4 separate regions of the Homo sapiens genome follow, and regions 1, 3 and 4 are each linked to region 2. Evidence: fine-mapped expression QTL. A gene starts in region 2. Each other region holds a variant in brackets. All regions are shown on one strand. Distances are between the middles of the regions. Region 1 overlaps SENP7 (SUMO specific peptidase 7). Region 2 holds the start of SENP7 (SUMO specific peptidase 7). Region 3 overlaps IMPG2 (interphotoreceptor matrix proteoglycan 2). Region 4 has its middle 5.6 kb from the start of TRMT10C.

Region 1 (8,109 bases), 81 kb before region 2:
TCCCTCCCCCAGCCCCCCACTCCCCAACAGGCCCTGGTGTGTGATGTTCCCTGCCCTGTGTCCATGTGTTCTCATTGTTCAACTCCCACTTATGAGTGAGAACATGCAGTGTTTTGTTTTCTCTTCTTGTGTTTCTTTTGTGAGAATGATGGTTTCCAGTTTCATCCATGTCCTGGCAAAGGACATGAAATCATCCTTTTTTATGGCTGCATAGTATTCCATGGTGTATATGTGCCATGTTTTCTTTATCCAGTCTATCATTGATGGGCATTCGGGTTGGTTCCAAGACTTTATTATTATGAATAGTGCTGCAATAAACATACATGTGCATGTGTCTTTACAGTAGAATGATCTATAATCCTTTGGGTATATACCCAGTAATGGGATTGCTAGGTCAAATGGTATTTCTAGTTTTACATCCTTGAGGAGTCACCACACAGTCTTCCACAATGGTTGAACTAATTTACACTCCCACCAACAATGTAAAAGTGTTCCTATTTCTCCATATCCTCTCCAGCATCTGCTGTTTCCTGACTTTTTAATGATCACCATTCTAACTGGCGTGAGATGGTATCTCATTATGGTTTTAATTTGCATTTCTCTAATGACCAGTGATGATGAGAATTTTTTTCAGAAGTTTGTTGGCTGCGTAAATGTCTTCTTTTGAGAAGTGTCTGTTCATACCCTTCACCTACTTTTTGATGAGGTTCTCTTTTTCTTCTTGTAAATTTGTTTAAATTCTTTGTAGATTCTGGATATTAGCCCTTTGTCAGATGGACAGATTGCAAAAATTTTCTCCCATTCCATAGGTTGCCTGTTCACTCAGCTGATAGTTTCTTTTGCTGTGCAGAAGCTCTTTAATTAGATCCCATTTGTCAATTTTGGCTTTTGTTGCCATTGCTTTTGGTGTTTTAGTCATGAAATCTTTGCCCATGCCTATGTCCTGAATGATATTGCCTAGGTTTTCTTCTAGGGTTTTTATGGTTTTAGGTCTTACAGTTAAGTCTTTAATCCATCTTGAGTTAATTTTTGTATAAGGTCTAAGGAAGGAGTCATTTCAGTTTCCTGCATATGGCTAGCCAGTTTACACAACACCATTTATTAAATAGGGAATCCTTTCCCCATTGCTTGTTTTTGTCAGGTTTGTCAAAGATCTGATGGTTGTAGATGTGTGGTGTGATTTCTGAGGCCTCTGTTCTGTTCCATTGGTCTATCTATCTGTTTTGGTACCAGTACCATGCTGTTTTGGTTACTGTAGCCTTGTAGTATAGTTTGAAGTCAGGTAGCATGATGCCTCCAGCTTTGTTCTTTTGGCTTAGGATTGTCTTGGCTACGCGGGCTCTTTTTTGGTTCCATACGAAATTTAAAGTAGTTCTTTTTCCAATTCTGTGAAGAAAGTCATTGGTAGCTTGATAGGGATAGCATTGAATCTATAAATTACTTTGGGCATTATGGCCACTTTCACAATACTGATTCTTCCTATCCATGAGCATGGAATGTTTTTCCATTTGTTTGTGTCCTCTTTTATTTCCTGGAGTAGTGGTTTGTAGTTCTCCGTGAAGAGGTCCTTCACATCCCTTGTAAGTTGGATTCCTAGGTATTTTATTCTCTTTGTAGCAATTGTGAATGGGAATTCACTCATGATTTGGCTGTTTATCAGTTATTGGTGTATAGGAATGCTTGTGATTTTTGCACATTGATTTTGTATCCCGAGACTTTGCTGAAGTTGCTTCTCAGCTTAAGGAGATTTTGGGCTGAGACGATGGGGTTTCCTAAATATACAATCATGCCATCTGTAAACAGAGACAATTTGACTTCCTCCCTTCCTATCTGAACACCCTTTATTTCTTTCTCTTGCCTGATTGCCCTGGCCAGAACTTCCAATACTACGTTGAATAGGAGTAGTAAGAGAGGGCATCCTTGTCTTGCGCCAGTTGTCAAATGGAATGCTTCCAGTTTTTGCCCATTCAGTATGATATTGGCTGTGGGTTTGTCATAAATAGCTCTTATTATTTTGAGATATGTTCCATCGATACCTAGTTTACTGAGAGTTTTTAGCATGAAGGGCTGAATTTTGTCAAAGGCCTTTTCTGCATCTATTGAGATAATCATGTGGTTTTTGTCGTTGGTTCTGTTTATGTGATGGATTACGTTTATTGATTTGTGTATGTTGAACCAGCTTTGCATCCCAGTGATGAAGCATACTTGATCATGGTGGATAAGTTTTTTGATGTGCTGCTGGATTCGGTTTGCCCATATTTTATTGAGGATTTTCATATCGATGTTCATCAGAGATATTGGCCTAAAATTTTCTTTTTTTGTTGTGTCTCTGCCAGGTTTTGGTATCAGGATGATGCTGGCCTCATAAAATGAGTTAGGGAGATTTTCCTCTTTTTCTATCGATTGGAATAGTTTCAGAAGGAATGGTACCAGCTCTTCTTTGTATTTCTGATAGAATTCAGCTGTGAATCCATCTGGTTCTAGACTTTTTTTGGTTGGCAGGCTATTAGTTATTGCCTCAATTTCAGAGCCTGTTATTGGTCTATTCAGAGATTCAATTTCTTCCTGGTTTAATCTTAGGAGGGTATATTTGTCCAGGAATTTATCCATTTCTTCTAGATTTTCTAGTTTATTTGCATAGAAGTGTTTATAGTATTCTCTGATGGTAGTTTGTATTTCTGTGGGATCGGTGGTGATATCCCCTTTATCATTTTTTATTGCATTTATTTGATTCTTTGCTCTTTTCTTCTTTATTAGTCTGGCTATTGGTTTATCTATTTTGTTGATCTTTTCAAAAAAACCAGCTCCTGGATTCACTGATTTTTTGAAGGGTTTTTTGTGTCTCCATCTCCTTCAGTTCTGCTCTGATCTATTTCTCGCCTTCTTCTAGCTTTTGAATTTGTTTGCTCTTCCTTCTGTAGTTCTTTTAATTTTGATGTTAGGGTGTCGATTTTAGATCTTTCCTGCTTTCTCTTGACATTTAGTGCTATAAATTTCCCTCTACACACTGCTTTAAATGTGTCCCAGAGATTCTGGTATGTTGTGCCTTTGTTCTCATTGGTTTTAAAGAACATCTTTATTTCTGCCTTCATTTCGTTATTTACCCAGCAGTCATTCAGGAGCAGGTTGCTCAGTTTCCATGTAGTTGTGCAGTATGAGCGGGTTTCTTAATCCTGAGTTCTAATTTGATTGAACTGTGGTCTGAGAGACAGTTTGTTGTGATTTCTGTTCTTTTACATTTGCTGAGGAGTGTTTTACTTCCAATTATGTGGTCAATTTTGGAATAGGTGCAATGTGGTGCTGAGAAGAATGTATATTCTGTTGATTTGGGGTGAAGAGTTCTTTAGATGTCTATTAGGTCTGCTTGGTCCAGAGCTGAGTTCAAGTCCTGGATATCCTTGTTAACCTTCTGTCTCATTGATCTGTCTAATATTAACAGTAGGGTGTTAAAGTCTCCCACTATTATTGTTTGGGAGTCTAAGTCTCTTTGTAGGTCTCTAAGAACTTGCTTTATGAATCTGGGTGGTCCTGTAGTAGGTGCATATATATTTAGGATAGTTAGCTCTTCTTGTTGCATTGATCCCTTTACCATTATGTAATGCCCTTCTTTGGTTTTTCTGATCTTGGTTGGTTTAAAGTCTGTTTTATCAGAGATTATGATTGCAACCCCTG[CT/C]TTTTTTTTTTTTTTTTTTTTTGCTTTCCATTTGCCTGGTAGATCTTCCTACATCACTTGAGGTCAAGAGATCGAGACCATCCTGGCCAACATGGTGAAACCCTGTCTCGACTAAAAATACAAAAATTAGCTGGGTGTGGTGGCGTGGGTCTGTAGTCCTAGCTACTCGGGAGGCTGAGGAAGGAGAATCGCTTGAACCCGGGAGGCAGAGGTTGCAGTGCACCAAGATTGCGCCATTGCACTCCAGCCTGGCGGACAGAGCCAGACTTCGTCTCAAAAAAAATCATCCATCCCTGAGGTCTGCCTTAGACTCTACCTTTCCAGCACATGCATTTGTTACTTGACAACTGGCCAAATACTAAAGAAGCAGTTTTTGAAAGAAAAGGAGTTATCTTATTCTTTGAAATTAAAAGGGGATTTTGTCTTGCACCTTTGGTACCAGCATGGCCACAGCGGAGTAGAGCACCAAAGAGGCTCTTGGGGTCCCTAATTCCAGGACGTGACCCTATGATGGCACTTTTGGACCTGACCTGGAGCAGAGGGGAGCTCACTGCCCTAAAGGTTGAGTCCCAGGCCAGGCAGCATTCACAACAAGCCATCTTAAGAGATTTCGGGCCTTAAGGGAAATTGTAGGTAGTCTGGCCATACTCCTTGTGGCCTGGGATAGCAATGGCTATGGGGTGAGGCTCTTCTGCTTTTGGGAAAGTGAGGGAAGAGTGGGGAGGACTGCATCTTGTCATTTGAGTGCCAGCTCAACCATAATACAATAGAACACTAGGTAGACTTCTAAGGTTTTTGACTCCAGTCCCTGACTCCCGGACAGCACTTCTGGACTGACCAAGGGCTTGGGAGATCTTGCCATCCTGAAGGGAAGAACACAGGCCTGGCTGGCTTTGCCACTTGCTGATCATAGAGCCCTGGACCCTTAAGCAAACATAGGCAGTAGCCAGGGAGTAGTGACAGCAGGTCTTGGGAGAGACCCAGGCTGTGCTGGCTTCAGGTCTGACCCAGCACAGTCACAATGCTGGTGGCCACAGGGGTGCTTGAGTCACTCCACCCCCATCTTTAGGTGGCTTGGAATAGAGACTGTATGTTTGGTAGAAAGTAAGGGAAAAGAACAAGAGTCTCTGCCTGGTAATCCAGAGAATTCTCCCAGTTCTTGTACAAGACTATCAAGACAGTATCTCTATGAGTCTGTAAGAATCACAGCATTACTGAGTTGGGGTGCACCCTAAAGCTTAGAGCATAACACCCAGCTCCTTTCAAATATCTGAAAAGCCTTCCCAAAAAGGATGGCTACAAGTAAGCACAGATAGAGAAGACTACAATAAAAACCTAACTCTTCAATGCCCAGACAATGAAGAACATCTACTAGCATCAACATCACCAAGGAAAATAATCACTGGAAGCTACAAAACTCACTGGTAATAAGTACATAGAAAAAGAAAGAATATCATAACACTGTAACTGTGGTGTGTAAACTACTCTTATCCTACGTAGAAAGACTACAGGATAAACCAACCAAAAATAATAACTACAATAACTTTTCAAGACAGTCAATACAATAAAGATATAAATAGAAGCAACAAAAAAGTTAAAAAGCAGGGAGACAAAGTTAAGGCATAGAGTTTTTATTAATTTTTATTTTGCTTGTTGTTTATGCAAATAGTGTTGTTATCGGGTTAACATAAAGGGTAATAAGATAGTATTTTCAAGCCTCATGGTAACCTCAAACCAAAAAACATACAATGGATACACAAAAAATAAAAAGCATTAAACCAAATCATATTAAAAATCACCTTCACTAGAGGAAGACAGGAAGGAAAAAAAAAAGGAAAAAAAAAAACAAGAAAGAGAAGACCACAAAACAATCAGAAAACAATTAACAAAATGGCAGGAAATAAGTTCTTACTTATCAATAATAACATTGAATATAAATGGACTAAATTCTCCAACTTAAAAACACAGACTGGCTGAATGGATGAAAAACCCATTGATCTGTTGCCTAAAAGAAACACACTTCACCTATAAAGACACACATAAACTAAAAATAAAGGGATAGAAAAATGTACTCCATTCCAATGAAAACCAAAAAAGAACAGGAGTCACTATACTTCTATGAGACAAAACAGATCTCAAGACTAAAATGATAAGAAGAGACAAATGGGTCACTATATAATGATAAAGAGGTCAATTCAGCAAGAGGATATAACAATTTAAAATATATAGTCACCCAACCCTGGAGCACCCAGATATACCAAGGAAATAATATTAGAGCTAAAGTGAGAGATAGACCTCAATAAAATAATAGCTGGAGACTTCAGCACCCCACTTTCAGCACTGGACAGATCTTCCAGACAGAAAATCAACAAACAAACAAACAAACAAACAAACATCAGACTTAATCCACACTATAGACCAAATGGATCTAATACACATTTATAGGCCATTTCATCCAACAGCTGCAGAATACATTCTTTTCCTCAGCACATAGACCATTCTTAAGGACAGACCATATGTTAGGTCAATAAACGAGTCTTAAAACTTTCCAAAAAACTGAAATAATATGAAGCATCTTCTCTGACCACAAAGGAAAATTAGAAATCAATAACAAGAGGAATTTTAGATACTATACAAATATATGGAAATAAAACAATATGTTCCTGAATGGCCAATGGGCCAATGAAGACATTAAGAAAGAAAACTGAAAAATTTCTTGAAACAAATGATATTGGAAACACAATACAGCAAAACCTATAGGATACAGAAAAAGTAATATTCAGAGGAAAGTTTATAGTTTTAAATGCATACATCAAAAAAAAGAAAAAAACTTCAAATAAACTATCTAATGATGCATCTTAAAAAACTAAAATAGCAAGAGCAAACCAAACCCAAAATTAGAAGAGAAAAAATAAAGAGAGAAAAAAACAAATGAAATTGAAATTTTAAAAATACAAAAGATTAATGAAACAAAAAGTTGGTTTTTTCAAAAGTTAAAACAAAATTGACCAACCTTTAGCCAACCTAAAGAAAAACAAAAAGAGAAAATACAAACAAAATCAGAAATTAAAAAGGAGGCATTACAACTGATACTACAGAAATTCAGAGGATCATTAGTGGCTACAATGAGCAATTATATGCCAATAAATTGGAAAATCTAGAAGAAATGGACAAATTTCTGAATACATACAATCTAACAAGATTGAACCACGAAGAAATCCAAAATCTGAACAGACCAATAGCAAGCAATGAGATCAAAGCTGTAATTAAAAGTCTCCCAGTAAAGGAAAGCCCGGGACCCAATGGGTTCACTGCTAAATTCTACCAAACATTTAAATAAGAACAAATGCCAATCCTACTCAAACTATTCTGAAAAAGAGAGGAGGAGGGAATACTTCCAAACTCATTCTACAAGTCCAGTATTACCCTAACACCAAAACCAAACAAAGAAACATCAAAAAAAGAAAACTACAGGCCAGCATCTCTGATGAACACTGATGCAAAAATCCTCAACAAAATACTAGCAAACCAAATTCAACAATACATTAGACAGCTCATTCATCATAACCATGTGGGATTTATCCCTATGATGCAAAGATGGTTCAACTTACAAAAATCAATCAACATGATTCATCATATCAACAGAATGAAGGATAAAAATCATATGGTCATTTCTGTTCATGCTGAAAAACCATTTGATAAAATTCAACAGTTCTTCATAATAAAAAAAAAACTGAGAATAAAAGGAACATGCCTCACATAATAAAAGCCATATATGACAGACCCACTAGCTATCATAGTTAGTATCCTAGCTAGTATCATACTAAATAGGGAAACACTGAAAGCCTTTCCCTTAAGATCTAGAACACAACAAGGATGTCTACTGTCACCACTGTTATTTAACATAGTATTGGAAGTCCTAGCTAGAGCAATCAGATAACAGAAAGATATAAAGGGCATCCAAATTGCAAAGGAAGAAGTCAAATTACTCGTTTGCTGATGACATGATCCAATGTTTGGAAAAACCTACAGACTCCATGAAAAAACTATTAGAACTGATAAACAAATTCAGTAAAGTTGCAGGACACAAAATCAACATACAAAAGTCAGCAGCATTTCTGTATGCCAACAGCAAAAAACACGAAAAAAAATTAAAAAGTAATCTCATTTACAATAATAGCCACATATAAAATTACCTAGGAATTAACCAAAGAAGGGAAAGATCTCTACAATAAAAACTATAAAACAATTATTAAGAAATATGAGAACACTAAAAAATAGAAAATTACTCCATGTTCATAGATTGAAAGAATCAATATTGTTAAAATCTCCATACCACCCAAAGCAATCTACAGATTCAATGCAATCCCCATCAAAACACCAGTGACATTCTTCACAGAAATAGAAAAACTAATCCTAAAATTTATATGGAACCA
Region 2 (8,109 bases):
GCAATATCTTTAGCTTCTCAAGATCTGTCTATATCTTTATCCATCTTTTCTCCTTTCCCTATATCTCACCAAACTGTTCTTTGATGTCATCCCTCTCTCCCATTTCTTCTGGGACCTCACTCCATTATCTCCTACCTGATATATATTCAATCTTTCCCTCTCCACCCCTTTCCCACTCCCTACCAACCTGATTTAAGTCTCTCATATTCCTAAAAAAAACAAGCCTTTCTACCTAATTTCCTACTCAAGCTTGTTCTAGAAATATTTCCTTCCCATCTCATTTTCCCAGCTTACTTTTGCTGCCCCATTTCCTCACTGCCACTCATTCCTCTAGCCTGTTGAAATCTGGCTTTTGTCTACTAGTCTACTAACCACTCTTACCATCAGTAAAAGTAGCCTCCTAATTGCCAAATCCAGTACCCTCATGCTACTTTAACTCTCTGAAAGGCTAACATTTTTTTTACTCTCCTCCCTTTCTTCCCGAACCTGTCACAATCCTAATCAGCCTATCTAACTGCTTAGTAATATCTCTTCCTCCGCACTTTGAAATTAGTTGTATGTGATTTAAGACCTTCCTCACTCTATACTATTTTTTGTGGGCAATTCCATTCATTCCAATGACTTCAACTAAGATTGCTGCAAATAATGCAGCTTTATCATAACTAATCGTTAAGTTCTCATCTTGAGCTTCAATTATCATTCATTACACTTTCAATGCAAAGCAAACATCACCTGGACCTACTGAAAGATTTAAGAAAGTTATACCATCAGGGACACTAGTAGCAGTAAATGAAGTTAAAACTATAGATTTTGTAATTAGAGACCACATTTTGAATTCTGTTCCTTACTAGCTATTACTAATCTTTATCCTGCCCCTAAATCCCGGTTTTCTCATCTGTAAATGAAAAACAATTACCTTATAAGGCTTTTGAAAATATTGAAGTTTGTGAAGTTCTTAGCACAATGTCTAGTGCCTAAGTACTTAAAGAACATACGTTATCCTTAACTACAAATGAGAGTGACACAGGCCTCCAAGAATGTTGCCTGAAGCAATCAGTTGAAAACTGGTTCAAATTTACTTGACGTTTCCTATTTTGATTCAAAAATTCACTTGAAAATTGCAGTCTATGATTCTAATTTATCTGTGCTGTATTTTTGTTGTTTAACACTTTTAATGGTCATTCTCCCTTGCTCCCAGACACTTTATCATTCAACTTCAGTGAACCTGTCTCTGATGCCAGCCGTTTTTTAATGTGTATCACCATCTAATATACTGCTTTAAATGGTATAGTTATCAGTTACATGAGTTACAAATACATGTGTTTAGCTTAAACCATCTGGAATTGGGTTTCTGCTACTTGCAACTGAAAAAGTTTTGAGCGGTACACTGTGAACATTTTACAGTTCTTCCTTGTTTAGCAGAAAGTTTAGGGCAGCCTAATGTAGTCTCACAGATAAAACTTCAAATTTTGTGTTTTATTTTATCTTTCTACTGCTACCCACCTTCCTTCTACCTCTTCTTCCTGTTTTATTAATCAAACTCTTCTGCATACTTAGGAAACTTTGATGACTATAAATGTCACTTCATGGCCGGGCACGGTGGCTCACGCCTGTAATTCCAGCACTTTGGGAGGCCGAGGCAAGTGGATCACCTGAGCTCAGGAGTTTGAGACCAGCCTGGCCAACATTGTGAAACCCCATCTTTACTAAAAGTACAAAAATTAACCGGGCATGGTGACAGGCACCTGTAATCTCAGCTGCTAGGGAGGCTGAGGCAGAAGAATCGCTTGAACCTGGGAGGCAGGGGTGGTAGATTGTGCCACTGCGCTCCAGCCTGGGCAACAGAGCGAGACTCCATCTCAAAAAAAAAAAAAAAAAAAAGTCACTTCATTTGGGTTCCAGTTAGCAACAACTTACAATGAAATGGCAACTGCATGCCTACAACCACTACACGGAATCTTTCAACCAGCCAATGTTTTATTTCTGAGAATTTATTCAGGAAATTAAATATACGCTATTAAGAAAAGCAGAAGCATACTTAAAAATTAATTAGTGCACATCTTAAAACTAGAGGCATACTGGAGAACAGCTAGGTAACATTAGATTTGGGTATGGATTTTATTATACCTTACTTTTCAGAAAGGACAGCTCCAAAAGAGAGATCACGAGAAAAAGAAAACGCTCTCTAGAGATATAACTAACGTAAATATCAATGTCTTTTAAGGATTAACAGCTTTATTATCAAAATCCACTTCCCACAACTACTTACATCAAGTTACTGTGACAAATAAATAAATCTAAGTGTAATCAGGTAAAAAGGAACGTGACTTGTTGAATTACAAGGCAAATATCTTACCTTCCCTCCTCAAAAATGTATTAAACCTAGATGAAATGCATTTATTTAAAAAAGGTTGTGCATCTCAAAGGAAGATATGATCACACCTAAAGTTCTGTGTTAGGAAGCCCGCAAATGACACCAGCTAAGCATTGTGCGTTTTCCTAATGTGTCCATTTTACTTAGAGGTTTGGTGGGGGGTGGAGACTATTAAAACACTCATCAGTTGGAGGCATATACCTACATGTATGTATAAATATACATATATATCATTTATACATGTGCTTTCAAAGGAAAAAACTATTATCTCCAGAATATACACCAAGAACATCGATAACATTGGTTGCATATGAAAAGGGATTTCAGGTTTTCAACTGCTTCAAGCAGTGTCCCCAGAGATCCATAATCACTCTCCTTTGCAATTAAGGCTGAAAGCAGTTTGAGATGCACTGCCACAGGGCACTCCTAAATAAATTTGGAATTGGTTTTTTTTGTTTTTTTTTTGTTGTTGTTGTTGTTTGATACAGAGTCTCGCTCTGTTGCCCAGGCTGGAGTGCAGTGGTGCGATCTCGGCTCACTGCAAGCTCCGCCTCCCGGGTTCACGCCATTCTCCTGCCTCAGCCTCCTGAGTAGCTGGGACTACAGGCGCCCGCCACCACGCCCGGCTAATTTTTTGCATTTTTTAGTAGAGACGGGGTTTCACAATGTTAGCCAGGATGGTCTCGATCTCCTGACTTTGTGATCCGACCGCCTCGGCCTCCCAAGGTGTTGGCATTACAGGCGTGAGCCACCGCGCCCGGCCAATAAATCTGTAATTGTTAACTGTCTCTGCAGAAACCAACGGTACCATCAGAAACAGAAAAATGAAATGAAATAATTGATTCATTGGGCGTTCGTTTGTGTACTGGACTGTAAGCATATGAGTCCTCGTCCTCTCCTCCTACCATCCATAGGACTTAACACAAGGACTTGAGGACCCCCTAATGGATGAAATGTTTGATAAAAACTTCTCAACTGGGAGGAGCTCTACCTCACGTTTTTATAACTCCACTTTCTTGTTTCCAAGACGTTGTACACAAAACTGAAGATAGTCATTTAAAACAAAGTAACGTCCAAAACAAAAAATATGCTGAAAATAAAAACACAACGAAAGCACGGCTTCAAATCCTTTGTTTGACTTTCCAATCACTTTTGGAAGACGCAGGGTAGGCTGGAAAAGAAAAAGGCTATTAGGCGGGCCTGTTCAGCAGAACGAGACCCGGAGAGGCATTGTATCAAAGAAAAGGAGTCTCCGGTCGCAAGCCCCACCTTTCCTCCCCAGCAGCAGCTACCTGCTGAGGGAAAGAGGAGGGAGAGGGGAAGGGACGCAAAGTCGAGAATCAAAGGAAGAGAGGAAAGTGGGGTCAGGCGCTGAGAAGCCGAAATGAAATTGGAACATTGGTGGAATTACGAGGAAGGCGTGGCAGAGAGTGACAAGCCAACCGGGAAGATCCATGGGCCGATGAGACGCAAGGAGGGTGTTCGCGGGAGGAGGGAAAAAATAAAAGGGGTTTTGAGGTGAAGAGCGCCCGAGGCTTCGATGACAGCTCGGACCGGGTCTTCGACTCCAGGGGCGGGGGCGACCCGGGAGCCTTCCATTGTGCGCGCCCCTTCCTCTCCCCGCCCCCGCCCTCGCCCCCGCGGCTTCGGGCCGCAACCCCAGCTGCCGCCTGCGCCTCCCGTTTCCCCCGGGTAGGAGACAATATGTTCAGCCCTTCTCTGACCCTTTCTCACCGGATGAAGATGGCCGTCGCCCGAGCTTTCTCTTGTCCATCTTCTCCCGCTGCTGAAATTTCAGTTGCAGGCGCTGTCACCTCAGGACCCCTCCGGCTTGGAGAGGGAGGGGGAGGGGAAAGGAAAAAAAAAAAAAAAAAAAAAAAAAAAAAAAAGCCCGCAAAGTGCGAAGCGCGCTTGCGCAAGAGCCGTCGCCTGCCCTTCGACCGGAAATCAGCCGCCCCTCCCACCTTCGACCGGAAATCACTTCCTGGGACTTTTCACTGTGGGCTGCCTCTTCCAGCGTTTTTTTGGTGGCGTTTATTTCATGATCTGAGCCCCTCTGGGGAGGTGAACCACCTGGGTGCTCGATTTTAGCTTTGTTGACTTTGAAGATTAGATTGACAAAAATTAAAAGGGAAAAACAGGAACTCCTCCGGTTCACTGGATCTCGCGAGGTGGCCAAACAACTATGAAAACAAAACGTTAGCGTTTGCAGTATTACATCCCTCACAGCCTCTCTTACATATTTGCCCCCAACGCCTTTCCTCGAACTCAGAAACCAAAAGATTTTAAGATGGCAAAATCACCTAATAATAGCCTAGCTATTAGTTTAGCATTTGCTGTGGAAATATGTCAGCAGACGAGGAAAAATGTCTTAGGATTCCTTTTTAAAATTCGAACTTGTGATTTTTAAAGTTCCTTAAAAGAAAAGCTAGAACTTAATTTTTCAATAACTGAAATGCTGATATGACAGAAAGTGGGTGGCTATAAACTTGGAATTTGTTCAATTAACATTTACCACGATACTTAAGGGACTAATCCAGTCCTCAATGAACTCAAGGTCTGGTACTATTAGCCTGATTATCCCTAATGGTGCATATCTGAATAATTTTTAAATGCACGTGTAAGCTTTCATGACGATTTAATCACAAGTTTAACAAAATTCAGCACAGTGCTCTAAGCAGGGAAAATGTTTCTGGCATGTTCAAAGCCCGAAGGGACTCTGGAAGTAGGGTTTGATTCCCAAGCTGGCCCCTTTATACCCCTAACGCCTATCCCTCCAACCCCCATCTCCCATCCTAACGGAGTCAATAAAGGGATCGGCCCAACTCGTCCACTAGAGCAGTCCCCTTCATCGTGAGTTAAGCCTTCTTAATTATAATGTGGTCAGTCCCCAGGTAGAGGTAAGGCCCCAGGTGTTGTGGGGTGTTGGGCCTGGGGAAGTGTTCTACATGGCAGGAATGACTGCAAAGCAGAAATACTTTAAGTCTTGCTGGGATTGAAGTTTACTGTAAGGATTTCGTTTTATTTGGTTAATTTCTGTTTAACAAAAACATTGCTTTCTGAAAAATAATTGAATTTTCAGTTTCCTCACAAATTAACTTTTTTTTTTTTTTGAGACGGAGTCTCGCTCTGTCGCCCAGGCTGGAGTGCAGTGGCACAATCTCGGCTCGCTGCAAGCTTCACCTCCTGGGTTCACGCCATTCTCCTGCCTCAGCCTCCCGAGTAGCTGAGACTACAGGCGCCCGCCACCACGCCCGGCTAATTTTTTGTATTTTTTAGTAGAGATGGGGTTTCACCATGTTAGCCAGCATGGTCTCGATCTCCTGACCTCGTGATCCGCCCGCCTCAGCCTCCCAGAGTGCTGGGATTACAGGCGTGAGCCACTGCGCCTGGCCCAAATTAACTTTTTTAACTAAAGAACTTAACTGATTCTAAAGTCAAGCTGGGCCGGACACAGTGGCTCGCGTCTGTAATCCCAGCACTTTGGGAGGCCGAGGCAGAATAGATTGAGCCAAGACATTCCAGACCATCCTGGGCAACAAAGCAAGACCCCCCTCTCCACAAAAATATACAGGCCAGATGCTATGACTCACCCTTGAGCCCAGGAGTTTGATACCAGCCTGGGCAATATAGTGAGACCTCCTCTCTACAAAGAAAAAAACTAGCCACACGTGGTGGCGCATGCCTGTAGTCCCAGGTACTCAAGAGGCTAAGGCAGGAAGATCACTTAAGCCCATGGAGTTAAAAGTTGCAGTGAGCCTTGATCAGGCCACTGCATTCCAGCCTGGGCGACAGAGCCAGACTGTCTCGGAAAAAAAAAAAAAAATGACCCGGGCACGGTGGAGCACACCTATAGTCCCCGGCTACTGGGGAAGATGAGATTTAAGGATTACTTGAGTCCAGGACTTTGAGGCTGCAGTGAGCTATGATCGCTACACGGTACTGCGGCCTGGGCGACACACAGATACCCTGTCTCCAAAAAACATAAAAAATAAACTTCCCAGACGATTCTGTTGCATACTCCAATTTGGTAAAACCAACACTTAGTGACATCTGCTTTTTTCTTTTTCCTATCTCTAATATTCTTTTTTCTATGTGTCCTTGCCTCTGGTGGATTAAATACAACTTTTTTGTTCCCTAGGGAGAGGTGAACAGTGAGGAGGGACATTATGTACTTTCATCTTATTTTGAAATTTCTACAGATATAATTTCACAACCACTATTATTTTCTACAATTTACTAAATGGAATTGTAATACAGGCATTATTATTTTTCTAAAAAACTGCATAATTGCTTTCTGTGTTGGGAAAAGAAAAATAGTGCTGCTTTTGTACCAAAACAGTATTCTTTCTTTCAAACATATTTTCTAGAGGTTTTTTGTTTTGTTTTGCTTTCCTAAATATGAAAATAAATGAAAACTTACTCGTTGTAAAAAAAAAAAAGTATCATTAGATATTTTTAAATATTCTGAGTAAAAGTATTCTCCATTCTGTGCTTCTTAATGGCATGGTATATACAAAAGGACCTTGTTCCTAAATATAAAAAAGGATTATAATTACTGTATTAGATTATTACTCTGTAACCAGGGGATTTCCTAACTTCTCAGATTATAAAATTACTTCTTATAAAAGCTTACTAATCACCTGTGAAAAATGTAAATATTGTTAAATGTAACCACTTTTGATCCTAGAAAGGAAAGGGGTTCCTTAAAAATCCAAATACGCTAATTAAAGTTATTTGCATCTATGATTCTGGTGTCCCACCCACCCTCTTCTTTAAAGATAATCACACCTAACCTAGAGAAGTCAAATTCAGAGAGATCGAAAGTAGAATGGTGGTTGCTAGTGCCTAGGATGAGGAGAATGGGGAGTTATTGTTTAATGGGTATAGAGTTACAGTTTTGTAAGATGAAAAGCATTCTGTGGATGGATGTCAGTAATGGTTACACAACAATATGAATGTACGTAATGCCTCTGAACTGCACACTTAAAAATGGTTAGAATGGTAAATTTTGTTATGTATATTTTCACAATTGTTTTTTAAGAAATAACCACACCTAGAACAAGTCATTACAGCTGTGTCACCACCTAATCCAGGATACTGGAAAAGCCTAATTTCAAATTTTCTTTAATGCGTATATGCTGTTCTCCTTTTTTAAAATTTTATTCTGCGTAAAACGACTGGAGTACTTGACATAGGAAACAAAGTGCCTACCAAATGGCCTCACTAAATTTTTGGTAAATGAATGAAATAAAAAGTCAAATACTATGCATTTTTAAATCTTTGGTAAAAACTAATCTTGGAGTGGGAGGAGGGTGAGCGTTGTAAAACTACCTATCAGATACTATGCTCGCTACCTGGGTAATGAAATCATTTGTATACCAAACCCCAGTGACACAAAATTTACCCTTGTAACACATTTGCACATTCCCCCGACCCTAAAATAAAAGTCAAAAAAGGGGAAAAAAAATCTTCTCTCAGGCTCCTGGGCTGCCTCAGTTACTTTGGGCATGCCACTTTACCTTTGAAAGCCTCAACTTCTCCATTTATAAAATAAACATGTTAGCTAAGAATATCAATAAGGTCCCTTCTAGCTCTAACAATCTTATTCTTGAAGGTAAACTATTGAAGGAAACCAGAATGTCACCTCAAAATATGCCTTTTTTTTTTTTTCCCGGAGACTGAGTTTTGCTCTTATTGCCCAGGCTGGAGTGCAATAGCACGATCTCAGCTCA
Region 3 (8,109 bases), 210 kb before region 2:
CACTCATCTGGGTTGCCTAGATTCCTCAGCACTACCAGGAGGGAAGACTAAATCTACCCGTCCGCAGAGACTGTGGCCACCCCTCCCTCTAGAGGCTCAAGCCCAGGAAGATTAGAGTCTGTCCCTAAGTCCCTGGATGGAGTTGTTGGAGTTCCTGCAAGGAGGCCCCACCCAGTGAGCAGGGACATGTCAAGGTCCGGCCTGAAGAGGCGCTCTGTCCGCAGTCTGCCACAGCTAGTGTGTTGGACTGTGGGGTATACCTCTTGGGAGCAAGCCGTCCAGCCTCCCTGGCTCCAGCAGGGGAAAGACATGGCCTGGAGCTATAGAGATGGCTGCCACCCTTCCCCCACCCTGGGAGCTTAGTGTGTTAGGCAGCTATCAGTCCCAGTGTTGGCTGTAGCCCCTCCTGCAAAGGAGTTCAAAGGGCTTAGACAGCAGGCAGCCACAGCGGTGGTGCTGGTTGCCCCTCCCGCGGGGAGCTCCGCAGGCTTAAGCAGATTCTAGCTTAGTGGCTGTTGAAAATCTGCTTGGTTCTGTGGTTGGGACCCTAGGCCCCGGAGGTATGGGCTCCCAAGTGAGATCTTCTGATCTGTGGGTTGCACAGTTCCGTGGAAAAAGCACGTTTTCCCAGGCTGGGTAGCAGGCTCACTCACTGCCTCCCTTGGCTGGGGGCTGCGGCACCACACTGCTCTTCCTTCCTCTCCGTGGGTCACGCCAGTTGCCTAGTCAGTTCTGATGACAAAACCTGGATACCTTGGCTGCCAGTGCAGGATTCACATGCTGTTATGGTTCTTTTAGATGGAGCCACAGATTGCCACTGCTTCTAGTTGGCCATCTTGGCCCCGCCCCCCACTTTTAATTTCTTTCAAGAACTTTTCCTTTGCGTTCACAACTTAGCTAACTATTTGGTGCAAGAGACCTAGCTTAAGGCCTATCTCAGTTTTTGACATACTTTCCTCACTATACTTAATCATTTCTAACTTTTGATTTAAAGTGAGAGACATGCTATTCTTCTTTTCACTTGAACACTTAGAAGCCATTGTCGGGTTATTAACTGGCCTAATCTCAATATTGCTGTAACTCAGGGAATAGGGAGGCCTGAGGAGACGGCTTGAGGCCTGAGAGACCAAGGAAAAGTCAGTCGGTGGAGTTGTTGAAACACAAACAACATTTATCAATTAAGCTTGTTGTCTTACATGGATATTGTTCATGGCACTCCACAACAATTACAATAGTTATTGTAATTGTAATAATCAAAGATCACTGATCACAGATCACATAAGAGATAAAGAAAATAATTTTTTAAAATTTCGAATATTTTGAGAATTACCAAAATGTGAGACAGAGACACAAAGTGAGCACATGCTGTTGGAAGAATGGTACTAACAGACTTGCTTGACACAGGGTTGTCATAAACCTTTGATTTGTAAAAAATGCAGTATCTGTGAAGCACAATAAAGGGCAGCACAATAAAATAAAGTATGCCCGCACTAAGTCCAAAATGGTGATTCCTATAGCAACATTGGCATCCCAGACCCCTATCCTTGGCTTCATACCCAAATAGCAAACAATTCACATTTCACACAGGTGGTTCAAATGAATACATCAAAAGTGAACTCATTCTCCCTGCCACATCTACAAAGCTGCTTCTTTGCCCTCGTTATTGGTCTTAGTTACCCAAGCCAGAAACTGGAAGGCTTCTTGGGCCATTCCTTCACCCTGTCTCGACCCATCAGTGTCCTACTAATTTTGTTCCTATTTACATCTCTCAAGTTTCCTTTGTCTATCTCATGGTCTGGTTGGTATCTTTATCCTCTTTGGCCTGGAGTACTGATGCAACACCCTACCTTGTCTCTCTGTTCCAGTTTTATCTCCTATAATCCATCCTATGCTATGTAGAAACCGTAACGACCTTTTTAAAATTCAAAACTGCCAAATCAGCTCCTGCAACTTACCTACCTACAACCCTTCAATGGTTTCCTGCGATCTACAGAGTTAAATCCAAGCTTGTTCAGTTATCCATTGTTTTAGTCTGATCTCCTGTCATTCCTAGTCTACCTCTTTGGTATATTGACCGAGGTCATTCCCTACAAACACTTGGCTCGTGCTGTCCTTTCTGCCTAGAATGTTTATCCCCAGCTCTTCTTCATTTAAGTAACTTGTACTTATCATTTACAACTCTATCTAGGCAACACATCATTCCCTTCATCTGCTTTTTCTATTAAATAATTATTGGAAGTATATTTTCTATGCCTTCAAATATAAATTTACTAAAAGTTCCACTTGTAAGAGATACATTCCAAGGTAACATCAGAAGATTCTGTTCTTCTGGTAATACTAACCCATCATATATATTTGCCACACTAATGGCTGATCCTATATTGCGGACATAATTAAGATAGGCAATGCAATTAGAAATATAAGTATGTATATGTGTGTGTATGTCTATATATTTTCCATTAAATAGCTATCCCATGTTAGCCACTGCAATTTGTAAAATTGGTAATGATTGAGAAAGGAGGCCCAATGGTGTGAAGGGAAAAGACATCAATTTTGGAAAAGAGAACTGGGTTTGGATTTAAGCTCCATCATATCTGGTTTTATGTTATAGAATAAAGAATTTAATAATTATATGTCCATATCTGTAAAATGGGGACATTACCACCTCCTTATAAGGTTGCTGTTATAACATCTAATAATTTATTGATGAGCTTGATACATGACATGGTACATGGTAGATACTGAATAAATAGTAGCTATCAACATAGTTATTAATACTGAGCAGTTAAAAATGTGGCAGGCAAAAAACACATGCAATACGTTTCATTAAAATGTGAGGTGCCATGATTAAAAGTTGCGTTCATTTTAAAACACACAAAACCCTGCACAGCTTCAAAACATTTATACCCTCGCAAAATTTGTCTTTGGTCCACCCACGTTTATCAAACCATCCTTCTCTCCCCAACGTCCCCCATTTAATAAGATCATTCCTCTCTTGGACTAAATGTTAAAAGAATATAATTCTTCTACTATAAATAAAATTTAAAAATAGAATAGGATAATATATTTTATTACCTTTACGATATACTAATCTGATTTGATTATACACAAAATAGCTCAGTGTTATTCAGTCAATAATTATTTCCTCAGTCTCTGTAAGGTATGTAATACTTAGAACCAGTACTTAAAATAATCTTCATAAAGTTTATAAATTGTACCAAGTAAAAAAATACAATGTGGTTATTGCTCATATACTCATTTAAACAAACATCTATTGCATATTTACTACCTTATGGGAATGCAAAAATGAACAAACAATGACATAATCCTTGCCTTTTGACTCATAGTCTAGAAGAGGAATTAGTCACATATACAAGCAATCATCATAAAATATAAACAGTACAGTATTAAAAATGAATAAAGAATTGTGGGAGCTCGAAGAATAATGGTAGCTAAATCTTCTAGGCTGAGGTTTGGTTCCTTGCAAGGGAAGTTACATATGAGGACACAGAGGAACTGAATAGATGGACAGGGAGATATACGGAATAACAAACAGCATGAACAATTTGCCACGTACGTCTGGACAGTTTCACTTTCTTGTCATGAATACATATGTGCTACACGAAAAGGGAAAAGTGGCAGGTAATTTGTCTTTATGCATGTTTATTTATCCTTTGCTAAGAGTAAAACAATGTCTAAAACAAGGAAAACAAGTGAGCACACTCATTATTAGAATCATACCTATGCCTCACTAAACATTTATTCAAATGAACTATGTCCTCTATCTTAATTAGAGTTATTGCTATTCACTCTGAGTTGATAACATGTAAAACTTTGGCAAAAATGTTTGACTCTCACGGATTTATATTCTTAACCTAAACCTTTGCTGAATATTATTTCCAAATATTTACATCTATAAACAAGGCTGAGGCTCTTGTCTGAGTTAATAATGTCTTCTTTTTCTTTTTGTGGACAGAATAACATGAAAATATTAATAATGTATATTATAGAGGCCAGAGCTAGGAATAAAAGACTAGGCCACACCCTAGGGCAGCTTACTCAGATAGCCCAATTCAACAAAAGAGTAATACAGGCATTTGCCACTTGCTTTTGCTTCCTTTAGGCCTTAGCTGTGTAAATGCTCCTACAATAGTCCAGGAATCCCTTCCTTTGTTGTGACACTTACCTTCATGATTAAGCTTCTATGTTCCACAGATTCACTAAAATTTGTGCCCATTTCAAATATACTTGTGACTCCATCCTCACACAAATTCATCCAGTAATGATATTCCTCACGCCCAGGAAGTCGATCCCAAAAAGTCCTGAAGGCTTCCCAGACAGCTTCCTGACACACTAGAAAATAGAGAGGTGTTTTTTTACAAAAAGCTAACATGCTCTGGGGTTCTTACAATGATCATAGACTGATTCGTACAGATTCCTTGAGACACTGAAGTGTCCTTTCTGGAGGGATGTAGGAATGATTCTCAGTCAAAGGCCTTCTGTATGTATGTCCAGTTTAAACTTTTCATTTCTGAAGAGAATTTATATTTCCCATTCCTTTCTCTTACAAAGAGAATTGATTCATCTCTTCATGAGCTGGAGTGTCTCTCCCATCTCTTAAAAAAGTCCATGTTTATACTTCACAAAAGTGGAGCTGATATTGAGTATACTGTATTTAATCCAATGTTTTCCTAATGGACACTGTGATTTTCAGTTTCCTTAATGTTTGCAGATGTTCTCCTGAAATCATAACTTCAAAAATCAGCTTCTTTGCTTTTCATGATCACTGGGGAAGGAGACACTGACGTTTATAAATGGCCTGGAGCTTTTTGGCTAAATGCAGTGACATAACTGCATTGCATCTACTTGCTCAAAAAGTCATCACATATTTCTGATAAAAAAAAAAAACAGGAGTATTCAAACTTTTCCTCAAAGCTTACAGGAAGCAGAAAGTACTACATAAAATCAAGTAGAAGATATCCACCTGAAATTATCACTCTCAAACTACTATATTTCATATCTGAGAACAGAAAATAATAAT[C/A]TTTTTTATACATAAAAATTTATGTTCACACAAAAACCTGCATACGGGTATTTAAAGTCGCTTTATTCATAATTGCCAAAACTTGGGGGTGATGAAGATGTCCTTCAATAGGTGAAAGGATGAACAAACTGTGATATATCTAAAATATTATTCAATGATAAACAGAAATGAACTTTCAAGCCATAAAAGACATGGAGAAAACTTTAATGCACATTGCTAAGTAGAGGAAGCCAATCTGAAATGACTGCATACTGGTGATTCCAATATCATTCTGGAAAAGGCAAAACTATGGAGACAGTAAAAAGATCAGTGGTTTCCAGGGGTTGAGGGAGACAGGGATGAATAGGAGGAGCATAGCAGATTTTTAGGGCAGTGAGAGTACTCCATATGATACTATAATGGAGGATACATGTCGTTATACATTTGTCAAAACCCATAGAATGTACAACACAAAAAGTGAACCCTAATGTTAACTATGAACTTCAGTTAAGAATAATGTGTCAATATTGGCACATAAATTGTAACACATATGCCACAATATTATAAAATGTTAATAACAGGGAAAAGTGGTGGGGGAGTTGAGGGAATACATGGTAACTCTCTAAACACACTGCTCAATTTTTCTGTAAACCTAAAACTGCTCTAAGAAATATAGCCTATTAATTTAAGAAAAAAAAATATATATACACACATACATACATACACATGAACTTTAAAATGATATTCAGGAGAAATATATTGCTGTATTATAATAAAAACTAATCAATTTATTTGCTAAGTTATTCCAAAGCATCAAATCTGAAAGGCTGCTAAATAGTATCTCTGTGCTTTTTGTATAGTACTGAATGTACTGCTGTTCTGTAACCATTTCAGAGGCGCAGGACACTGTAGGTAACAGATACATCAGGATGGAAGGGAAAAGGAAGAGAGTGGTAAGAGAGAAAGTTAGATTTAACAGAGATTAAAAAAACTATTTTTCATAGCAAGAAGATTGAACACACATCAGGCAGGATCCACATTGAGGTGGAGCCTCTGGACTCCCACAGTCAGAAGATCTAAGTTCCCGCTCTAGCTTTCCAGTATACTAGTTTGATACCATGGGTAACTTACCTAACTATTCAAAGCTTCAATTGACTCATCTCTCTTTTTAACAGGATAAATAATTACTGCCTTATTATCTTATCTGTGAAAGTATTTTACAAATTGCAAAGTGCTACATGAATATCATATGTTATTATCGTGTTCAATTCTAATTGTCCAATAGTTATTTGGTAGAAGAAGATAGTCTAAGCCAAAAAAATTCTTAAGCTTTAACAGATTATGAAATGTATGAGTATTGAAAGTTTCTCTATCAATTGGGTTTTAGGGCTAAACCAAACCTTTCATTACAAACTTAATTTGTCTTTTAGTGAACTACCTGTATCCTTATTATTGTTATTAAGAACTTCTGACCATACAGCATACAGCGGGCACTGACTGAGGCAGAGCTGAACTATTTGTAGATCATTGTTTTTCATTTCTTCTTCTTAAAACTTCGAAATGAAAATTAAAGTAAATTCCAAAAGACAATGCAAAGGTGAAAAGTCTGGGTCAGTAAAAACTAACAAAAAGTGAATGTCTATAATGTCTGGTAATGAAATGAAGTGATTCAGAGAAAGTATAAAACAATGTTTGAAAAAAATAACTATCTACCCATAGGGAAAGAAAAAATAAATCTCAATGCCTTCTTCATACTATACACAAAAAATGATTTGAAATATTAGGGCTAATACTATGAAGTTTCTAAAATAAAACATAGAAGAATATCTACATCACTTGAGGATAGACAAAGATTTTATAGGCAGTACACAGAAAGCAACAATTATGAAAGAAAAAAACAATAAATTAGAATTCATCAAAACTAAAAAGTGTCTGATTATCAAAAGATACTGTTAATAAAAATGAGTAGGCAAACCACATATCTGGCAGAAAATATTCCAAATACATATATCTGCCAAAGAACTGGTATTTAGGGCACTGAAATAATTCCTACAACTCCCTAACAAAAAAACAAACAACCTAATTTTTACAATAGGTAAAAGGCTGGAATATATACTTCACAAAGGAAGAGATAAAAATAGCCAATGAGTATGTGAAAAACTGTTCACCATCATTCATTTTTCAGAGAAATTCAAATTAAAGTATCCACACACAAACCAAGAATGACTGAAATTTTTACATGGACAACACCAAAATTTGGCAAAAATGCAGAGCAACCAAAAGCCTCATTTTTGGTAGGAATGTATAATAGTATAACCACTTTGAAATAAATGTTAATTGTTTCTTATATAACAAAATATACACCAATCCTATTGTATTAGTCCATTCTCATGCTGCTATGAAGAAATGCCCAAGACTGGGTACTTTATAAAGGAAAGAGATTTAACTGACTCACAGTTCCACATGGGTGGGGAGGCCTCAGGAAACTTACAATCATGGTGGAAGGGAAGCAAACACATCCTTCTTCACATGGCAACAGGAGAAAGAAATGTTGAGTGAAGTGGGGGAAAGCCCCTTAAAAAGCTATCAGATCATGTGAGAACTTGCTCATTATCATGAAAACAGCATGGGGGAACAACTCCCATAATCTAATCATCTCCCACAGGGTCCTGCCTCCAACACATAAGGATTACAATTCGGATTAAAATTCAAGATGAGATTTTGGGTGGGGATACAGGCAAACTGTATCATTCTGCCCCGGCCCCTCCCAAATCTCATGTCCTCACATTTCAAAACACAACCATGCCTTTCCAACAGTCTCCCAAAGTCTTAACTCATTCCAGCATTAACCAAAAGTCCAAGTCCAAAGTCTCATCTGAGACAAGGCAAGTCCCTTCCACCTATGAGCCTGTAAAATCAAAAGCAAGTTAGTTCCTTCCTAGATACAACGGAGGTACAGACTTTGGGTAAATACACCTGTTGCAAATGGGAGAAATTGGCCAAAATTGGCCAAAATTAAGTGAAATCTTAAAGCTCCAAAATGATCTCTTCTGACTCCATGTCTCACATCCATGTCACACTGATGTAAG
Region 4 (8,109 bases), 43 kb after region 2:
CAAGATATGCTTTGTTAAACAGATGCTTGAAGGCAGCATGCTCTTTAAGAGTCATCACCACTCCCTAATCTCAAGTACCCAGGGACACAAACACTGCAGAAGGCTGCAGGGACCTCTGCCTAGGAAAACTAGAGTCCTTTGTTCACGTGTTTATCTGCTGACCTTCTCTCCACTATTATCCTATGACCCTGCCACATCCCCCTCTCCGAGAAACACGCAAGAATGATCAATAAATACTAAAAAAAAAAAAAAAAAAAAAAAAAGAGTTCCAGACCAGCCTGGCCAACATGGTGAAACCCCCTCTCTACTAAAGATAGAAAAATTAGCTGGGCGTTTTGGTGCATGCCTGTAATCTCACTACTCAGGAGGCTGAAGCAGGAGAGTTGCTTGAACCCGGGAGGCAGAGGCTGCAGTGCGCTGAGATCATGCTACTGCACTCCATCTGGCCTAGGCAACAGAGTGAGATTCCATCTCAAAAAAAAAAGAAAAATAGTAGAATAAAGGTTAAAGGCAAAATGAAAAAAAAAAAAAAAAAAAAAAGAAGTGCCTTTCCCCTTCCGCCATGATTGTGAGGCCTCCCCAGCCACGTGGAACTGTAAACCCATTCAACCTCTTTCTTCTGTAAATTGCCCAGTCTTGGGTATGTCTTTATCAGCAGCATGAAGATGGACTAAAATGGTAAATTAGTACCAGTGGAGTGGGGTGTTGCTGAAAAGATACCCAAAAATGTGGAAGTGACTTTGGAACTGGGTAATAGGCAGAGGCTGGAACAGTTTGGAGGGCTCAAAAGAAGACAGGAAAATGTGGGAAAGTTTGCAACTTCATAGAGACTTGTTGAATGGCTTTGACAAAAATGCTGATAATGACATGAACAGTAAGGTCCAGGCTGAGGTGGTCTCAGATGGAGATGAGGAGCTTATTGGGAACTGGAGCAAAGGTGACTCTTGTTATGTTTTAGCAAACAGATTGGCAGCATTTTGCCCTTGCCCTAGAGATTTGTGGAACTTTGAACTTGAGAGAGATGATTTAGGGTATCTGGTGGAAGAAATTTCTAAGTAGCAAAGCATTCAAGAGGCTATTTGCATACTGTTAAAGGCGTTCAGTTTCAAAAGGGAAACAAAGCATAAAAGTTCAGAAAATTTGCAGCCTGATGATGCAATAGAAAAGAAAATCCTATTTTCTGAGGAGAAATTCAAGCTGGCTGCAGAAACTTGCATAAGTAACGAGGAGCTGAATGTTAACCACCAAGACAATGGGGAAAATGTCTCCAGGGCATGTCAGAGACCTTTGTGGCAGCCCCTCCCATCACAGGCCGGAGGCCTAGGAGGAAAAAAGTGATTCTGTGGGCTGGGCCCAGGGTCCACCTGCTGTGTGCAGCTTAGGGACTTAACGCTCTGCATCCCAGCCACTCCAGCCATGGCTGAAAGGGGCAAACAAAGAGCTTGGGCCATGGCTTCAAAGGGTGCAAGCCTCAAGCCTTAGCAGCTTCCATGTGGTGTTGAACCTACGAGTGCACGGAAGTCAAGAATTGAGGTTTGGGAGCTTCTGCCTAGATTTCAAAAGATGTATGGAAACGCCTGGATGTCTAGGCAGAAGTTTGCTGTGGGGCGGGGTCCTCATGGAACCTCTGCTAGGGCAGTGCAGAAGAGAAATGTGGGGTGGGAGCCCCCAAACAGAGTCCCTACTACTGGGGTACTGCCTAGTGGAGCTATGAGAAGAGGGCCACTGTCTTCCAGACCCCAGAATTGTAGATCCACTGCCAGCTTTGCACCATGCATCTCGAATGCTGCAGACACTCAATGCCACCCTGTGAAGACAGCCAGGAGGGAGGCTTTACCCTGCAAAGCCACAGGGGCGGAGCTGCCCAAGACCATGGGAACCCACCTCTTGCATCAGCATGACCTGGATGTGAGACATGGAGTCAAAGGAGATGATTTTGGAGCTTTCAGATTTGACCGCCCTGCTGGATTTTGGACTTGCAGGGGCCCTATAGCCCCTTCGTTTTGGCCAATTTCTCCCATTTGGAATGGCTGTATTTACCCAATGCCAGTACCGCCATTGTATCTAGGAAATAACTAACTTGCTTTTGATTTTACAGGCTCATAGGCAGAAGGAACTTGCCTTGTCTTGGATAAGACTTTGGACTGTGGACTTTTGAGTTAATGCTGAGATGAGTTAAGGCTTTGGGGGACTGTTGGGAAGGCATGATTGGTTTTGAAATGTGAAGATCAGAGATTTGGAAAGGGCCAGGAGCAGAATGATATGGTTTGGCTCTGTGACCCCACCCAAATCTCATCTTGTAGTTCCCATAATTCCCACTTGTGGGAGAGACATGGTGGGAGATGATCAAATCATGGGGGTGGGTCTTTCCTACGCTGTTCTCATGATAGTGAATGGGTCTCATGAGATCTGATGGTTTTAAAAATGGGAGTTTCTCTGCACAAGCTCTCTCTTGCTGCCACCATGTAAGAAGTGACTTTTGCCTTCTGCCATGATTGTGAGGCCTCCCCAGCCACATGGAACTGTAAGCCCATTAAACCTCTTTCTTCTGTAAATTGCCCAGTCTCAGGTATGTCTTTATCAGCAGCATGAAAACAGACTAACACACCTATAAAGTCCTAGGATCAAGATTAAACACCACACTTGACCTTCAGGTGCCCACTTGGATCTCGTCCAAGTGAATTTTCCTTCTTTCCTGTTCTAAAGCCTTTAAAATAAACTTCCACTCCTGCTCTGAAACTCACCTCTGTCTCTTCTTCTGCCTTCTGCTCCTCAGTTGAAATCTTTCTTCTGAGGAGACAAGAATTGAAGTTGCTGCAGACCCATACAAAGTCGCTGCTGCCGGTAACTCAGATACCTTCCAACAGTAACAGGACTACAAGCATGCACCACCATGCCCAGCTAATTTTTTTTAGTTCCTATAGAGACAGAATCTCATTATGTTGCCCAGGGTGGTCTCAAACTCCTGGACTCAAGTGATCCTCCTGCTTCAGCTTCCTAAAACGCTGGGATTATAGGGGTGAGCCATCATGCCTGGCCAAGCACTTTTTAAATAAAATTCTTATGATTCTAATATCAGAGCTCCTACCTATCTTAAAAACTTTATGATTTTAACATCAGAAATTCTATTTATAGGAACAATGGGGATGCAAATCTGGTGCTATGTAACTTTTGGTTATGAGGAAGTGAGTCAAAGTGCAGCTTGATTAATGCTTAATTATAATTGTATTTCTGTCCATTATTCTTGCTAACCCCGTGACAACAAC[T/C]TCATTAAGTGTGTGAGTGGTGGGAGGAACACCTTCACAAGAGGAAATGTATGTTTTACTCTCAGGCAGATAGGAGAGGGCAGAGAGCTCATGTTATGTCTGCTTTTTATTAATTGTCTTCAGCTCAAAATAATCCTTACACCAGAGAGACATTTTTGGGGATGGTATATTTTGATCTCCTATAGACTCTACAGACCACTCCTGCAGCCACTCTGATGCTGATGATGGGGCTCAGGATACACCAACCCAAAATATGACCATAGGAGACTAGAACACATCACCCTAAAATATGCCTCTTTGACATATTGATTATTCTGATCTAGTTATTCTGGGAAGCTGCAGACACAGAAGCAGCTATGAAAAGTTGTCCTTTTATCTCAATAAAGGAAATCTCCATTGATAAGGATGTCTCCCTCTCTGCACCAAGAAGACACTGATTATTAAATCACTAGATACACTTTTTGTTTTTTTGACATGAAGTCTCACTCTGTTGCCCAGGCTGGAGTGCAGTGGCATGATGTCTGCCTCCTGGGTTCAAGCAATTCTCCTGCCTCAGTCCCCTAAGTAGCTGGGACTACAGGCATGCACCACCACGTCTAGCTAATCTTTTTTTTTTTTTTTTTGTATTTTTAGTGGAGATGGGGCTTTGCCATGTTGGCCAGGCTGGTCTCAAATTCCTGAGCTCAGGTGATCAGCCCACCGCATCCTCCCAAAGTGCTGGCATTACAGACATGAGCCACCAGTCTGGCCCTAAATCACTAGAGACTCTTAAACAATCAAGGCAGAATCACCTGAAATCTGCATAACAAACCTTATCTCCGTTTAAGGTAATTTTGCTGGTCATCTCAACTTAACTGAATCTGTCTCCACATCCTTCTTTGTTGTTGTTGTTGTTGTTGTTGTTTTCAGAAAATGATAATATTCAACCCTGAAGTTTAAAATCTTTTTTTGTTAATTTTTATTTTTTAAGATTTACTCATCTCTCTGGGTTATCTCCCATGCATACAAGAGGTATACAAGTTATTAAACTTGTTTTTCTCTTGTTCAATCTGTCTTTTGTTACAGAGAGTCTCAGCTAAGAACTCATGAAGGGAAGATAGATAGTCATATTTCTTCCCCTATACCAAAATATTTAACAACTTTACACCACTCCCCTTCTGTAAACTGAGTTTTACCCAGCCATCTTAGCCCTTAGCAGCATTAGCAAAATAGGGAGAAAGATCACGTAACACAGATTGGTATCACTATAAATTCATGATCCCCAAACTGAACTAGACTATTAGCACTGCCTGATATCATGGCTGTCTCACTAGTCAACTCATACTTCTTTCTTTACCATCTTAACCATTTTTTGAGTGTGCAGTTCAGTAGTGTTAACTATATTTACATTGCTATGCAACAGATCTCCAGGACTTTTTCATCTTGCATATCTGAAACTCATTAAACAACTCCACCATTCCTGGTAACTGTCACAGGGGGTGGCAGGGACAACTATCTGGGCCGGTGGCTCTGGAGTAAAAGAATTTACCAAAAACGCTTGTAAAGAAAGGCAAATTTATTAAAGAAAGTAGGAAAAGCCAGGCACGGCTCACGCCTGTAATCCCAGCACTTTGGGAGGCTGAGGCAGGCAGATCACAAGGTCAAGAAATTGAGACCATTCTGGCAAACATGGTGAAACCCCGTCTCTACTAAAAATACAAAAATTAGCTGGGCGTGGTGGCGCATGATTGTAGCCCCAGCTACTCGGGAGGCTGAGGCAGGAGAATCGCTTGAATCCAGGAGGCGGAGGTTGCAGTGAGCTGAGATCGCACCACTGCACTCCAGCCTGGTGTCAGAGCGAGACTCCCTCTCAAAAAAAAAAAAAAAGAGAGAGAGAGAAAGAAAGTAGGAAAATACATTGCAATAAAGCAACCGGAAGGCTGCAAAAGAGGAGCCGACTGCAAAGAGACAAAGATTAGCTGGAGATTTTATAACATAGAACTTGGGCTGATTGATAATGCCAATGCACTGGCAGCATAACTTGCTTTCTTTTGTCAGCTGAGATGTTTGATAAATTGAGGCGTTTGTTGGTAAGCAGTAAGTTTTTGAGTTACGTACATTATCTGAGTAGGAGGGCCATATGTATTGGGCAATATGTCCTTGGGCATAAAGAAAAACAGACCTATAATTCATCCTCTTCCTTTTTTGTTTATATGTCCTGAACCGTGAAGACAGGCATATTTATAGCTTATTTGCTTTATCTCTTTGCTTTCCTCTGGTCCCGCCAGCCTGACTCCTTTTCCCTAATTAGGACTCCACAGTAACAACCATTCTACTTTCTGTTTCTGTACATTTGTTATATGTTATTCTTTATGACAATAACAAACCTTCACCCAATCTTTAGTATCCGCAGAGGTAGTCTGTCTACCTCTTTCACAGAGAATGCGAACTGTATCAAATTATAGCCATCATGTCTATAAATTGTCCTCCATACCCACCTTAAGTTTCTTCCTTTCTTCTTGTTACAATGAAAGTGGTATTTCTTCCTCTTATACGAAACCAATCTCTCCATCTCTCCTCTAAATAGCATCTCTCCTCTATATACCATCTCTGTTAATCTTCTCAGGAAGTCTACCCATCCCATTATCCTTTCTTTCTCTTACCCCTTTGCTGATGATTCTAACAGCATTTAAAATGTCAGGCCTCTCCCAATCTAACATAATAATAATGAAGAAAATTTTCCTGGACTCCACATCCAGGGACTGAGCACGCTGTCTTTTCTTTAGACAAATTTCATAGAAATGTTTAAACTTGCTGATTCTATTTTCTCATAATCTCCTCATTCCTTATTCACTCTCATCTGGCTAAAGCCCCCAAACCTCACAATGAAGGTCCCAGTGGCCCTTGTATTGCTAAATCTAGTAGATACTTTTCAGTCTGCATTGCATGATCTCTAGGCAATATTTGACCCTGTTACCCATCCACTTGTCTTTGAAAACACCTTTTCCTTGATTTCTATGTCATATTCTGGTTGTTTTCCTCCCATCTCTTTAGCTGCTTATTTTCAGTTTCTTTTGTCCATTCCTGTTCTCTACCCAAGCCCTAGGTAATCTCTTCCACCCATATGGTTTCACAGACTCTATGTTAATAACTCTCAAATATGTATCTTTGGTGCATTCTTCTTTCACCTAAACTCTAGACCCATACAGCCAACTGCCAAATATCCTAAAGGAGATATCATTTGGCTATTTTGAAGAGAGATGAAAAGCCGCATGTCTAACACTATACTTACCATCTCTGCCCTCACACCATATACTCCTTTTCACTGTCTGCCCAGGTGCTCAAACCAGACTATTGACTTGTTCCTCTCCTTCTCTCCCAAATTGATCACCAAATTCTGTCATGTCCAGCTCTTAAATATCTTTCAAATATTCCCCCTTTTCTTTGCCTTTACTGCCACCACTGTTGTCCAAGCCACTAACATCACTTACCTGATCTATTTAGTATTCATTCATCAGCAAATTATTATTGAGTTTCCGATACTTGCCAAGCACTGTTGTAGACATTGAAGGTAGAGCAGAGAATCAAATACAAGAGTTCTCTACTTTGTAAGTAACACCTAAATCTTTGAATCCATGCTTTGTCTTCCAACTCTTGAAAGAGACGTTGGTATAGAGAAATCGTTCTCTATTATATAATAAACAGTGCAGGCAAAATACATGGCAAATGACATTTGCACCAGTGTAGAAAAGATAACATGTGGTGGAATAAGCTCTGGGGAACTGGAGAGTGGGTGCCTTGACTACAAAACAGCCTTTATTTAGGTCTAACCATTGTTTCCAAGAAGAAATATGAGCCAAGAGAGAGCATTCAGACCTTCTAGTTTTTCAATTCTAGTGTTTATGTGACATTGTCTTATGGGTTTTTATATATTTCCTTGCTTTTAAAATTTATTTCTTTTTCTTTTCTTTTTTTGTGTATTTTTTGTAGAGAGAGGGTTTCACCACGTTGGCCAGGCTGGTCTGGAACTCTTGAGCCCAAGCAATCTGCCTGCCTTGGCCTCCCAAAATGCTGATTATAGGCATGAGCCACTGCTCCTGGCCTACAATTTATTTTTTATTTTTTTGATACCTTACATCCCATATTACAAGCTATTTTTCTATGCCAAAACATGTATTTTGAGGCCGGGCGCGGTGGCTCACGCCTGTAATCCCAGCACTGTGGGAGTCCGAGGCGGGCGGATCACGAGGTCAGGAGATCGAGACCATCCTGGCTAACACGGTGAAACCCTGTCTCTACTAAAAATACAAAAAATTAGCCGGGCGCGGTGGCGGGCGCCTGTAGTCCCAGCCACTCGGGGGCTGAGGCAGGAGAATGGCGTAAACCCGGGAGGCGGAGCTTGCAATGAGCCGAGATCGCGCCACTGCACTCTGGCCTGGGTGAAAGAGCGAGACTCCGTCTCAAAAAAAAAAAACAAAAAAACGTATTTTGAAAATCACTGTGCTTTTTGTTGGAGGTAAGATGTCTGAAACCTGGAAATATTCTTAATCTAGAATAGGTCAGATCCCAGACATATTGAATAAATTATGTTCTGCTATATTTATAGAAACACTTCCAAAGATTTTTCACATAAAGAATCTTAGTAAACTTAACAGAATGAAATTTCCTTTACTTGACAAAGATCATATAGCAAAAACCTTCATAAAATATTAATGGAAAAACTTCAGATGTATCTCTTTAAAGAACAGGAACAAGAAAAAATAACCTCTACACTGCTATTTGTTATAACTACTAGACGATATTTATTCTTGATTTTTTTCCATGTTTGGGAGTAAACTCATGATTATTTTGCTATCACCACCTC

The links.
Region 1: its variant is fine-mapped to the expression of SENP7 in whole blood (INTERVAL, PIP 0.99).
Region 3: its variant is fine-mapped to the expression of SENP7 in cerebellum (GTEx, PIP 0.94).
Region 4: its variant is fine-mapped to the expression of SENP7 in whole blood (INTERVAL, PIP 0.96).

The regions. Positions count from the first base shown.
Region 1 is chr3:101,427,836-101,435,944 of GRCh38, forward strand. The region is part of intron 4 of SENP7 (SUMO specific peptidase 7); the gene reads right to left. Among named protein-coding and RNA genes, the nearest start is that of SENP7, 81 kb to the right of the region's middle. The variant CT/C (reference allele first, on the strand shown) is at 3,673.
Region 2 is chr3:101,508,983-101,517,091 of GRCh38, forward strand. It overlaps SENP7 (SUMO specific peptidase 7), which reads right to left and starts at 4,230. Exons shown (of 24, transcript NM_020654.5): 1 at 4,109-4,230. The coding sequence starts at 4,148.
Region 3 is chr3:101,299,960-101,308,068 of GRCh38, forward strand. IMPG2 (interphotoreceptor matrix proteoglycan 2) reads right to left here. Exons shown (of 19, transcript NM_016247.4): 3 at 4,187-4,353. Among named protein-coding and RNA genes, the nearest start is that of IMPG2, 17 kb to the right of the region's middle. The variant C/A (reference allele first, on the strand shown) is at 5,042.
Region 4 is chr3:101,552,246-101,560,354 of GRCh38, forward strand. No RefSeq gene overlaps it. Among named protein-coding and RNA genes, the nearest start is that of TRMT10C, 5.6 kb to the right of the region's middle. RefSeq lists an enhancer at 3,764-4,376. The variant T/C (reference allele first, on the strand shown) is at 3,267.